Homo sapiens: one gene and its partner. The protein of the gene in region 1 purifies or fractionates together with the protein of each later gene. This does not show direct contact. Each region holds a gene or a part of one and is shown in the gene's direction. Other genes may lie near its edges. The genes, in order: F3 and TM9SF4.

Region 1 (3,389 bases):
CCATCAAGGGAAGGGATTGAGTATATCAAATATACCCACATGCATGCATGTGTGTATATGGCGGACACGTGTGTGTACATGCATGTGCATATGTTGGGAGCTCAGGCCCATTGTGCGAGGAACAGTCCCTAACCGGAAGTGCTGTGGGCCTTCAGACTCTTGCAGGAAGCTGCAAGCCTGTGTGTCTCGATCCATGCCTTACAGGGAAAGTATTCTGAGTACTTCCAGTGAAGAAAAGAGTCAGGGGATATAAACGATGGCTTACGCTGGGTGTGGTGGCTCACGCCTGTAGTCCCTGCACTTTGGGAGGCCCAGACAGGCAAATCACTTGAGGTCAGGAGTTTGGGACCAGCCTGGCCAACATGGTAAAAGCCCATCTCTACTCAAAATACAAAAAGTAGCTGGGTGTGGTTGCACGTGTCTGTAGTCCCAGCTACTCAGGAGGTTGAGGCAGGAGAATTGCTTGAACCTGGGAGGCGGAGGCTGAAGTGAGCTGAGATTGGACCACTGTACTCCAGCCTGGGTGACAGAGCGAGATTCCATCTCAAAAAAAAAAAAAAAAGAAACAACGAAAAAAGAAATGATGGCTTAGCTCCATGTGAAGATGATATTTGAACATTTTAAAACACTTTAAATAAACTGTTCTCTCCTGTTTATTGCCACTGACAGGAGAGGTTTCTCTTTACCTCTGGTCCTGCACCCCTCTGAGCCATCCTACCCACAGCCTTCAGTCATTGTCCTAAAGCCTAGCTCTAATTCCACTGCCTCTCCTTTTGTGCACACACACTTCTCTGCTTCCCTGGCCGTTCTCTATCTTGGAGAGGCATTTCAAACGCCACTTCCACCAGAAGGCCTTGCTACTGCACCAACTAGTTACTATCTCTTCTTCACCCAAATCCTGGTAGCACTTTGGATCTCCCACTTTGCACTTAGGGTTCACCTTCCGTTATAATCATTGCCATCAATCTCAGCATCGTTTTTAGGCACTTCTTTCCAGCCATTGTTCTTACCTCCAACTACATATCTTTTCTGGACTGTGCATTATTCAGTTTATTAAATGCCCATTAAATGTGTTTAGCCATTGTCAATTACTCTGAAACGTTCAGGTTTTGACAAATTCTTTCCTAATGTAAGTGTGGTGGAAAGAGTGAAAGAAAGTCAAATTGCACAAAAATAGGATGGTGTAATTTGGGGTTATGCCGTCAATTTTGTCCACTGATAAATGGGATTTGAGCTCTCCAAGTTGACTAGATGCCCTTTATTTTTCAGAAATATTCTACATCATTGGAGCTGTGGTATTTGTGGTCATCATCCTTGTCATCATCCTGGCTATATCTCTACACAAGTGTAGAAAGGCAGGAGTGGGGCAGAGCTGGAAGGAGAACTCCCCACTGAATGTTTCATAAAGGAAGCACTGTTGGAGCTACTGCAAATGCTATATTGCACTGTGACCGAGAACTTTTAAGAGGATAGAATACATGGAAACGCAAATGAGTATTTCGGAGCATGAAGACCCTGGAGTTCAAAAAACTCTTGATATGACCTGTTATTACCATTAGCATTCTGGTTTTGACATCAGCATTAGTCACTTTGAAATGTAACGAATGGTACTACAACCAATTCCAAGTTTTAATTTTTAACACCATGGCACCTTTTGCACATAACATGCTTTAGATTATATATTCCGCACTCAAGGAGTAACCAGGTCGTCCAAGCAAAAACAAATGGGAAAATGTCTTAAAAAATCCTGGGTGGACTTTTGAAAAGCTTTTTTTTTTTTTTTTTTTTTTTTGAGACGGAGTCTTGCTCTGTTGCCCAGGCTGGAGTGCAGTAGCACGATCTCGGCTCACTGCACCCTCCGTCTCTCGGGTTCAAGCAATTGTCTGCCTCAGCCTCCCGAGTAGCTGGGATTACAGGTGCGCACTACCACGCCAAGCTAATTTTTGTATTTTTTAGTAGAGATGGGGTTTCACCATCTTGGCCAGGCTGGTCTTGAATTCCTGACCTCAGGTGATCCACCCACCTTGGCCTCCCAAAGTGCTAGTATTATGGGCGTGAACCACCATGCCCAGCCGAAAAGCTTTTGAGGGGCTGACTTCAATCCATGTAGGAAAGTAAAATGGAAGGAAATTGGGTGCATTTCTAGGACTTTTCTAACATATGTCTATAATATAGTGTTTAGGTTCTTTTTTTTTTCAGGAATACATTTGGAAATTCAAAACAATTGGCAAACTTTGTATTAATGTGTTAAGTGCAGGAGACATTGGTATTCTGGGCACCTTCCTAATATGCTTTACAATCTGCACTTTAACTGACTTAAGTGGCATTAAACATTTGAGAGCTAACTATATTTTTATAAGACTACTATACAAACTACAGAGTTTATGATTTAAGGTACTTAAAGCTTCTATGGTTGACATTGTATATATAATTTTTTAAAAAGGTTTTCTATATGGGGATTTTCTATTTATGTAGGTAATATTGTTCTATTTGTATATATTGAGATAATTTATTTAATATACTTTAAATAAAGGTGACTGGGAATTGTTACTGTTGTACTTATTCTATCTTCCATTTATTATTTATGTACAATTTGGTGTTTGTATTAGCTCTACTACAGTAAATGACTGTAAAATTGTCAGTGGCTTACAACAACGTATCTTTTTCGCTTATAATACATTTTGGTGACTGTAGGCTGACTGCACTTCTTCTCAATGTTTTCTCATTCTAGGATGCAAACCAATGGAGAAGCCCCTAATTAGATCAGGGCAGAGGGAAAAACAAAAAACTGGTAGAAACCGGCAACCACAGCTTCAAGCTTTAAGCCCATCTCCTACACTTCTGCTCTGTAGGTGCCCATTGTCACTTCTGTTCACATGCTACTGTCCCAAGCAAGTGACCAAGCCTGACAATACTTTGTCTACTGGAGTCACTGCAAGGCACATGACGGGGCAGGGATGTCGTCTTACAGGGAAGAGAAAAGATAATGCTCTCTACTGCAGACTTGGAGAGATTTCTTCCCATTGGCAGTAGTTTGACTAATTGGAGATGAGAAAAAAAGAAACATTCTTGGGATGATTGTATTGAAACAAAATTAGGTAAAAGGACAATATAGGATAGGGAGAGATATAAGTGGAATGAGATCTCTAGAGTCCATTAAAAGCAAGCTAGATTGAGAGCTCTTGGAGGGCAGGGACTGGGCCTAGCTCATGGTTTACAGCTCTTGAGGGTGACTGCACAGTGGACTCAGTCAGTCATGGCTGAGTTGAGTTGGCTTTATTATCTCTAGAATGTAGTTCTCCATTCAAATGCAAAACAGCCTTATTCTCTCAACTGTAGTAAAAGAGGATTCTAACTAGAGATGAAAAAGGTTCTTGGCACCTACTGGG
Region 2 (7,302 bases), on another chromosome or scaffold:
TTGAACCCGGGAGGCGGAGGCTACAGTGAGCCAAGATCGTGTCACTGCACTGCAGCCTGGGTGACAGAGTGAGACCCTATCTCAAAAAAAAAAAAAAAACAAAAAACAAAACACACCACCACCAACAAAACCCTGCAAGTACGGTGATTTAGTGTTTGTTGTGCCACCTGGGAGTGTTGTACTGAAAACAGTAACTGATTTAAAGAAACTGAGTATGTAACATATGCAGTGACCCACAGAGGCCAGTTTAAAGGGTGCATATGGAGAAACTTCATATCTGGTGCAATAGTGAAAAGGTGTGGAAGCAAATTTATTACAGGGGTATGTGATGAAGGGGCAAAGTGGAGTCACAGGCTTGAGTTTGGTCTGTGTCAGCACTTCATTACACGGAAGTCAGAATAGTCCCCACACCCTCATACACACCCTCATTTCATAACCATTGGGGCGAGGGGGTGCGGTAGACCTACTTTGGAGTGTATGGGTCTCTGAGGTGAGTCATACAGCCAAAGAGGAACTGAACTAGTGGATCCAGTGGCCGTGGGAATAGCTGGGTTGCTGGTTTGTCCTTTGTTTTGAAAGTTAGGGTTGTGGGTGCAAGTGCGGTGGCATGTGAGCTTTTCCCTTTCTCTCTTTCCTTGGTGAATGGCTCTTCTTCCCCAAGGGTTGAGCCGCCAGCTCCCAGAACAATGTCAGTATGGAGGGTGTTTCCTGAACCCGCAGGGCAAGACTTCTCCCTCCATAGAAGATAGCTGGTGTAAACTGAAGTTCTCTTTGATTTTCCTGTCTTCTTCCATCCTTAGATTTAGACTACTCTGTAAAGTTACAGGATACAGTGTTGATCTAGCTAGGTCTGAATTGAGATGCGGGCTCATGTCTCACTCTTTATGGAAAACGGTTCTTGGGAATATTATTTCATTGAAACTTGGGAAATGTCCATTGAGTACATTTCTAGATGTGTCAGGAGTCTAGAAACTTCAGTTTGGAGAATAAAACTCTACTTCCCTCACATCATTGTTCATACTGTTTTGGTTTTTATTATAATCTTCTTTATGGATATAATTCATATGCCATAAAATTCACCCCTTTAAAGTATATAATTTAGTGGGTTTTAGTGTTTTTATAGGTTGTGCATACACTAAATGTGATGGTTATCACCATTGTGTAATTCGGAACATTTCATCACCCCAAAAAGAGAGTCACTCCCTACTCTTCCCTCCCCACAGCCCTAGGCAACTACTAATTTACCTTCTGTCCCTATAGATTTGCCTATTCTGGACATTTTATACAAAGATAATTATATAATATGTGATCTTTTGTGTCTGGCTTCTTAGCATAATGTTTTCAAAGTTTGTTTATGTTGTATCATGTATCAGTAGTGCCGCATCCCTTTTTATGGCTGAATCTTCCCTTGTATGGATGTACCACAGCTTGTTTATCACTCATCAGTTGATGGATATTGGGATTGTTTTCACTTTTTGGTTGTTAGGTATAATGCTGCTGTGAACATTCAGGTGTAAGTTCTTGTGTGAACATACATTCAGTTTCCATGGGTGTATGGAAGTGTATTCCTGCATCAGTTCACACTGTTTTGAGGTTACTTGGGTTTGAGCCACTCCAGAAACAGGAATGGAATAAATGACATCAAGATTCCTTTGTGCTAATGGAGCCAATGCCAGTAGTCCCTCCAGCCCCAGTCAAAGGCACAGAAACTGGTTTTGTTTGTTTGTTATTATTATTTGAGACAGGGTCTCACTCTGTCATCCAGGCTGGAGTGCAGTGGCACGATCATAGTTCACTGCAGCCTCCACCTCCCGGGCTCAGGCGATCATCTTGCCTTAGCCTTCTGAGTAGCTGGGACTACAGGCACGCACCACATCCACCTAATTTTTTAATTATATTTTTCTTAGAGACAGGGTCTTGCTATGTTGCCCAGGCTAGCCTTGAACTCCTGGCCTCAAGCAATCCTCCCGTCTTGACCTCCCAAAGTGCTGGGATTACAGGTGTGAGTCACTGTGCCCAGCAAAAACTGTTTTTAATGGTGAAATAGCGTGCTAATCAGGTTGGATGATAGAGTCCTGGAACAGAAGGCCAGAGGCCTGAACTGTGCCATCAGTCTTGTGTGCAGGAAGTTGCTGTCTCCTCTGGACCCCATGTACAGGAGGACATGAGCTGACTGAAGAAGGAACGCTGGAGCAGGAGCCAGCAGCCTGGGCTTGGTCCCAGCGCTGCCACTGATGCATTGTGTGGCCTGGGGCAAATTACTTTGGCTTCATTAGTCTGTTTTCCACATATGTCATGTGTGAAATTAAGGTTTGTACTTGATGATTTCCAAATTCTGAGTTGAAAATTTTGTAGTTTGGAATACTTTAAGGTGAGTTTTGCTAATATGCCTATAAAATCAGACTTATTTTGTTTTTTCCATGATGATGGTCACTGTGATCTTTCCAAGCTGTTGTGTTGGTTGTATTGTCTGTCTGATCACCCAGGTTTCCCCACCTGGCTCATGTTCTGCAGGAGCTACTGTGTCCTTGGAGCTGAGGTGCTGACATCGGGCCTTGGTTAAATGTGTTTCTCTGAGGGGTCCCTTTAAAGGAATGCCCTTAATCCCCCTCAGGAAGTACAGAGGAGGTTGGGATCACATTAAGTTGCCTCTTAGTTTCTGTTTTACAACTTGGACAAACGTCTCCCTTTGATCTTGGCATTAAAGAAGCACGTCAGAGAATGTTGGAGAAGGCTGAGTTTTGATCTCTGGGCACTGGCAAAAAGGTGGGAAGGACCCAGGATGAGAAGAGCCATCTGGCCACGGATGAATAATAGGAGCCACTACCACCTTCAAGCCTGCTTTGATCCCTGAACCATTTGCTGACACTAGAGTTTCCCAAATGGGGCATGGATGGGGACACCCAGGACTTCTCAGTTCCATCTCATTCCTTTTCATTGCTTCCTTCTCTCCCTTCCTAACATGGTTTCTCACCTATGCCTGATGCTTTAAACCAACAGACCTCCCAGGGTTTGAAATCCTCTTATGCTTGGTCTGAGAATCTGGGCTAGACTCCCAGCTCTGACACTGTGATTACTTTTGTGACTTTGGACTGATTGGTTATGTGATTTTGGGAAAACCGTTTGCGCTTTTAAGCCTCAATTACCTTATATTAAAATTTTTTATTGTGGTAATAACAAAACCTACCACTTTAAGCTTTTTTTTTTTTTTTTTTTTTTTTGAGACAGAGTCTCACTCTGTCGCCCAGGGTGGAGTGCAATGGTGCGATCTCAGCTCAGTGCATTACTGCAACCTCTGTCTCCTGGGTTCGAGCGATTCTCCTGCCTCATCTTCCCAAGTAGCTGGGACTACAGGCATGTGCCACCACGCCTGGCTAATTTTTGTATTTTTAGTAAGGATAGGGTTTCGCCATGTTGGCCAGGCTGGTCTCGAACTCCTGACCTTGGGTGATCCACCTGCCTCAGCCTCCCAAAGTGCTGGTATTACAGGCATGAGCCACCATGCCTGGCCCACTTTAAGCATTTTTAAGTGTGCAGTTCAGTGGCATTAAGTACGTTTACACATATGCAGCTGTTAGCACTATCCGTCTCCAGAACTTTTTCATCATCTCATTTTTGAAACAAGGATGATATTCTCAAGGGATTGTTGTGATGATTAAATGAAATATGAGATGAAAGTGCTAGCACAGAGAGGGCACTCTGTAACTTTACTCCAAGGTTTGAAGTCTTCCCGTGGTGAGCTATCTAAGCCTGCTGCTTGGGCTAGCTGAGAGTTCTTTTATAAATACCCAAGGTGGAGACAGGAGAGCAGTACGTTTCTGCACTTGGTGGTGTCAGGGTTGAAGTCTGGTTGCCTGTTGCTTCGTGAGGGTGGTTATTAGTTTCACCTGGACTTCCGCAGTGCAGCCTGCTGTGCGTTTTTCCCTACCCCCAAATTACAGCTTTGAGTCTTTCATGTGTCTCTGTTCAACAGCTACTCTGTGTCTGTGGGCTCTGAAATAAAGGCTACATTTTCAGTTTCCTGTGGCTAATTTGTTTTTTGTTTGTTTGTTTGTTTGTTTCTTGCTCTGTGAGTTCTTTAGTTCCATGGGCCTGCTTGGTAAGTTGTCTCTAGCTGTCATTAGCCTTCATTCACATGCGGCTGGATTCTTGGTAAGCTTTAACTGACTGGATAATTGACTTCAGTTAACTGTTGGCAAACTGTGCCCAAAGCCTTTTTCTTTTTTTTTTTTTTCCTCCTTTTTCCTTTTTCTTTTTTTTTTTTTTTTTTTTTTTTTTGCTTAATCTGAGGGAGCAGTTACTGACATGGTCTCAAAATGGTGACTGTCGCCAGGCACAGTGGCTTACACCTGTAATCCCAGCACTTTGGGAAATGCCGAGGTCGGAGTGGGTCATTTGAGGTCAGGAGCTCAAGACCAGCCTGGCCAACATGGCGAAACCCTGTCTCTACAAAAATACAAAAAAATTGCCGGGTCTGGTGGCAGGCACCTGTCATCCCAGCCACTCAGGAGGCTGAGGCAGGAGAATCACTTGAACCCAGGAGGCGGAGGTTGCAGTGAGCCAAGATCATATCACTGCACTCTAGCCTGGGCAACAGAGCTAGACTCTGTCTCAAAAAAAAAAAAAAAAAAAAAAAGTGACTGTCTTTTAGAAAGAAAAAGAAGAATCTAGTCTATTGCTAAGGAAAATGCTGCTTTTGCAGTAGGAAAGGCATGGAACAGGAACCAAAAAGGCCGTTCAGATTGGCCAGATGTATTGCTGCTAGTTGATGCTATTTATGGGAAAGGAGATTGCAAGGCAGAGGGCTCCAGAAAAAGTTAACTTCTGGTTACAGAGAAATGCAAGTGAATGAAATAATTTTTCGTTCTCAGGGAAACTTCCTGTTTTCTTTGGAAGATGTTAATTGTTCACACCTTTCAAACTGGGTGGGGTGAATTTGGAGTGGCTGGGGGTACTTTTGAGTCCTAGCAGCCCTTCATTAGACAGCTGTTTGGGGGAGATATTTCTGAGTGCCCAACCCACCCCCGCCCCCCCAAGAATAAAACAGATGGGGAGGGAAAGACCTTGATTCTTGGTTCTCTTGAGCTTTATAACATTCCAGGTCACCTGTATCTTTGCCAGTGATGGCGTGTTAGATTACAGCACAAAAGGCTTCTAGATTGCCATCACCTTGTTCCTTGATATGCTGCCTTTGAGGTCTCTTTTGCTACTTGGAAACCAAGTAGCAAAAGCAAAATGACGTTGAATGGGCTGGTTCACATCTCTTAGGACTCTTTGCATGGCTCTGAACATGCAGAAGATGATTACTAAATATTTAATTGACTTTTCAGACTGAACCTCTCATGGGAGTTAATGAGGCAATCAATTAAAAATTAAAAGAAAATTTAAAGGAATTTCCTAAGAAGCAGGTACTTTGCTTTTTCCTTACAGAAAAGAACTGCAGGCCAAACATCCTCTATCAGGCTATCAGGAATATAGAAGGTGATGAAGTCATAGAATCATAAAAAGTTGGAACAGTGTCCAGGGGTTTTACCAGAAACCCATGAACTTCTAGTCCTTGATTCTCTGTGTATTGGAATATTTTTTCCGAGATCAGTATCTGTAGCTTTGATAAGTTTCTCAGAGGGATTTGTGACACCCTCCCCAAGATTAAAAATTGCTGATCTGTCTGCTTACCCACATACCTGGTGCCAGAATCCGCTCTGCATAATTCTTACCTTAGCCCACTTTCTGCACATCTTCTGTGGAACTCATCCCAGTATTTTCAGAGGCAACCCATTTCCTTCACTTCTTAAAATATAAATGAATATATGTCTTTAATTTTTTAATTTTTTTAGAGACAGGGTCTCACCCTGTCACCCAGGTTGGAGTGCAGTGGTGGAATCATAGCTCACTCTAACTGCAGCCGTCGGACTCCTGGGCTCAGGTGATCCTCCCACGTAATTATAGGTATTAGCTACTATGCCCAGCCTAAATGTATTTATTTTGTTGTATTTATTTATTTATTTATTTATTTATTTATTTATTTATTTATTTTTATTTTGAGACAAGGTCTCACTCTGTTGCCCAAGCTGGAGTGCAGTGGCGTGATTTCTGCTCACTGCAACCTCCACCTCCCAGGCTCAAGTGATCCTCCCACCTCAGCCTCCAGAGTAGCTGTGACTACAGGCAAGCACCACCATTCCTCATTAATTTTTTGTATTCTTTGTAGAGACGAGGTTTTGCTCAGGCTGGTCTCAAACTCTTGGGCTCAAGCGATCCACCTGCCTCGGCCTTACAAAGTGCTGGGATTATAGTCCTGAGCTACTCTGCCCGTAAATGTATTTATTTTTAATAAGGGTGATCCATGTATGTGGAAAAGAGTATTAAAAAGCTATAAAAGTATCAAAACATTATGTTGTGTGCCTACCATAAATATATTCAATTTTTACTTGTCAGTCTTTAAAAAGCTATAAAATGGATCAGGCGCAGTGGCTCACACCTGTAATCCCAGCATTTTGGGAGACTGTGTTGCTCATAAAGGAATACCTGAGGCTGAGTAATTTATAAAGAAAAGAGGTTTATTTGGCCAGATTTGGTGGCTCATGCTTGTAATGTCAGCACTTTGGGAAGCTGAGGCAGGTGGATCGCTTGAGCCCAGGAGTTCAAGACCATCCTGGGCAACATGATGAAACCCAGTCTCTATTAAAAATACAAAAATTAGGGCTGGGCACCGTGGCTCATGCCTGTAATCCCAGCACTTTGGGAGGCCGAGGCAAGCAGATTCTAGTGGGTGTGTGGTGGTACCTCACTGTGGTTTTGGTTTGCGTTTTCCTATTGACAAATGATATTAAATATATTTTATGCTTATTAGTCATTCATATATCTTCTTTGGTGAATTTCTGTACAAATCTCTTGTCCATTTTTAAATCGGATTGTCATTTTCTTATTAAGTGTTCTTTGTATATTCTGGATATAAGTTCCTTATCAGGTATGTGATTTGCAAAGAATTTTCCACTAGTCTTTGGCCCATCTTTTCATTTTCTTAGTGGTATCTTTGGAAGTGTAAAAGTTTTTAAATTTTTATGAAATTTAATTTATTATAATTTTTTTAATGGATTCTGGTTTTGGTGTTGTATCTAAGACATTTTTGCCTAACCCAAGATCACAATGATTTCTTATTTTTTCCGTATAGAGGTTTTTGAGTTTTAGCTTTTTTGTTTAGTTCTGTGATCCATTTTGACTTAATTTTTGTGTGTATGTTCTGAGGTTCCATGTGCATATGGCTACCCAGTGGTCCAAGCACTATGTTTTGAAAAGACT

What was found.
Region 2: the proteins of F3 (region 1) and TM9SF4 purify together in Homo sapiens (affinity purification with mass spectrometry; 3 studies listed by BioGRID and IntAct, with this or other methods). This does not show direct contact.

The regions. Positions count from the first base shown.
Region 1 is NC_000001.11:94,528,477-94,531,865, reverse strand, and holds the end of F3 (tissue factor isoform 1 precursor), read left to right. Parts: intron 1-1,269; coding exon 1,270-1,406; 3' UTR 1,407-2,693; downstream 2,694-3,389. UniProt on the Homo sapiens protein: Initiates blood coagulation by forming a complex with circulating factor VII or VIIa. The [TF:VIIa] complex activates factors IX or X by specific limited proteolysis.
Region 2 is NC_000020.11:32,112,611-32,119,912, forward strand, and holds part of TM9SF4 (transmembrane 9 superfamily member 4 isoform 1 precursor), read left to right. Parts: intron 1-7,302. UniProt on the Homo sapiens protein: Associates with proteins harboring glycine-rich transmembrane domains and ensures their efficient localization to the cell surface.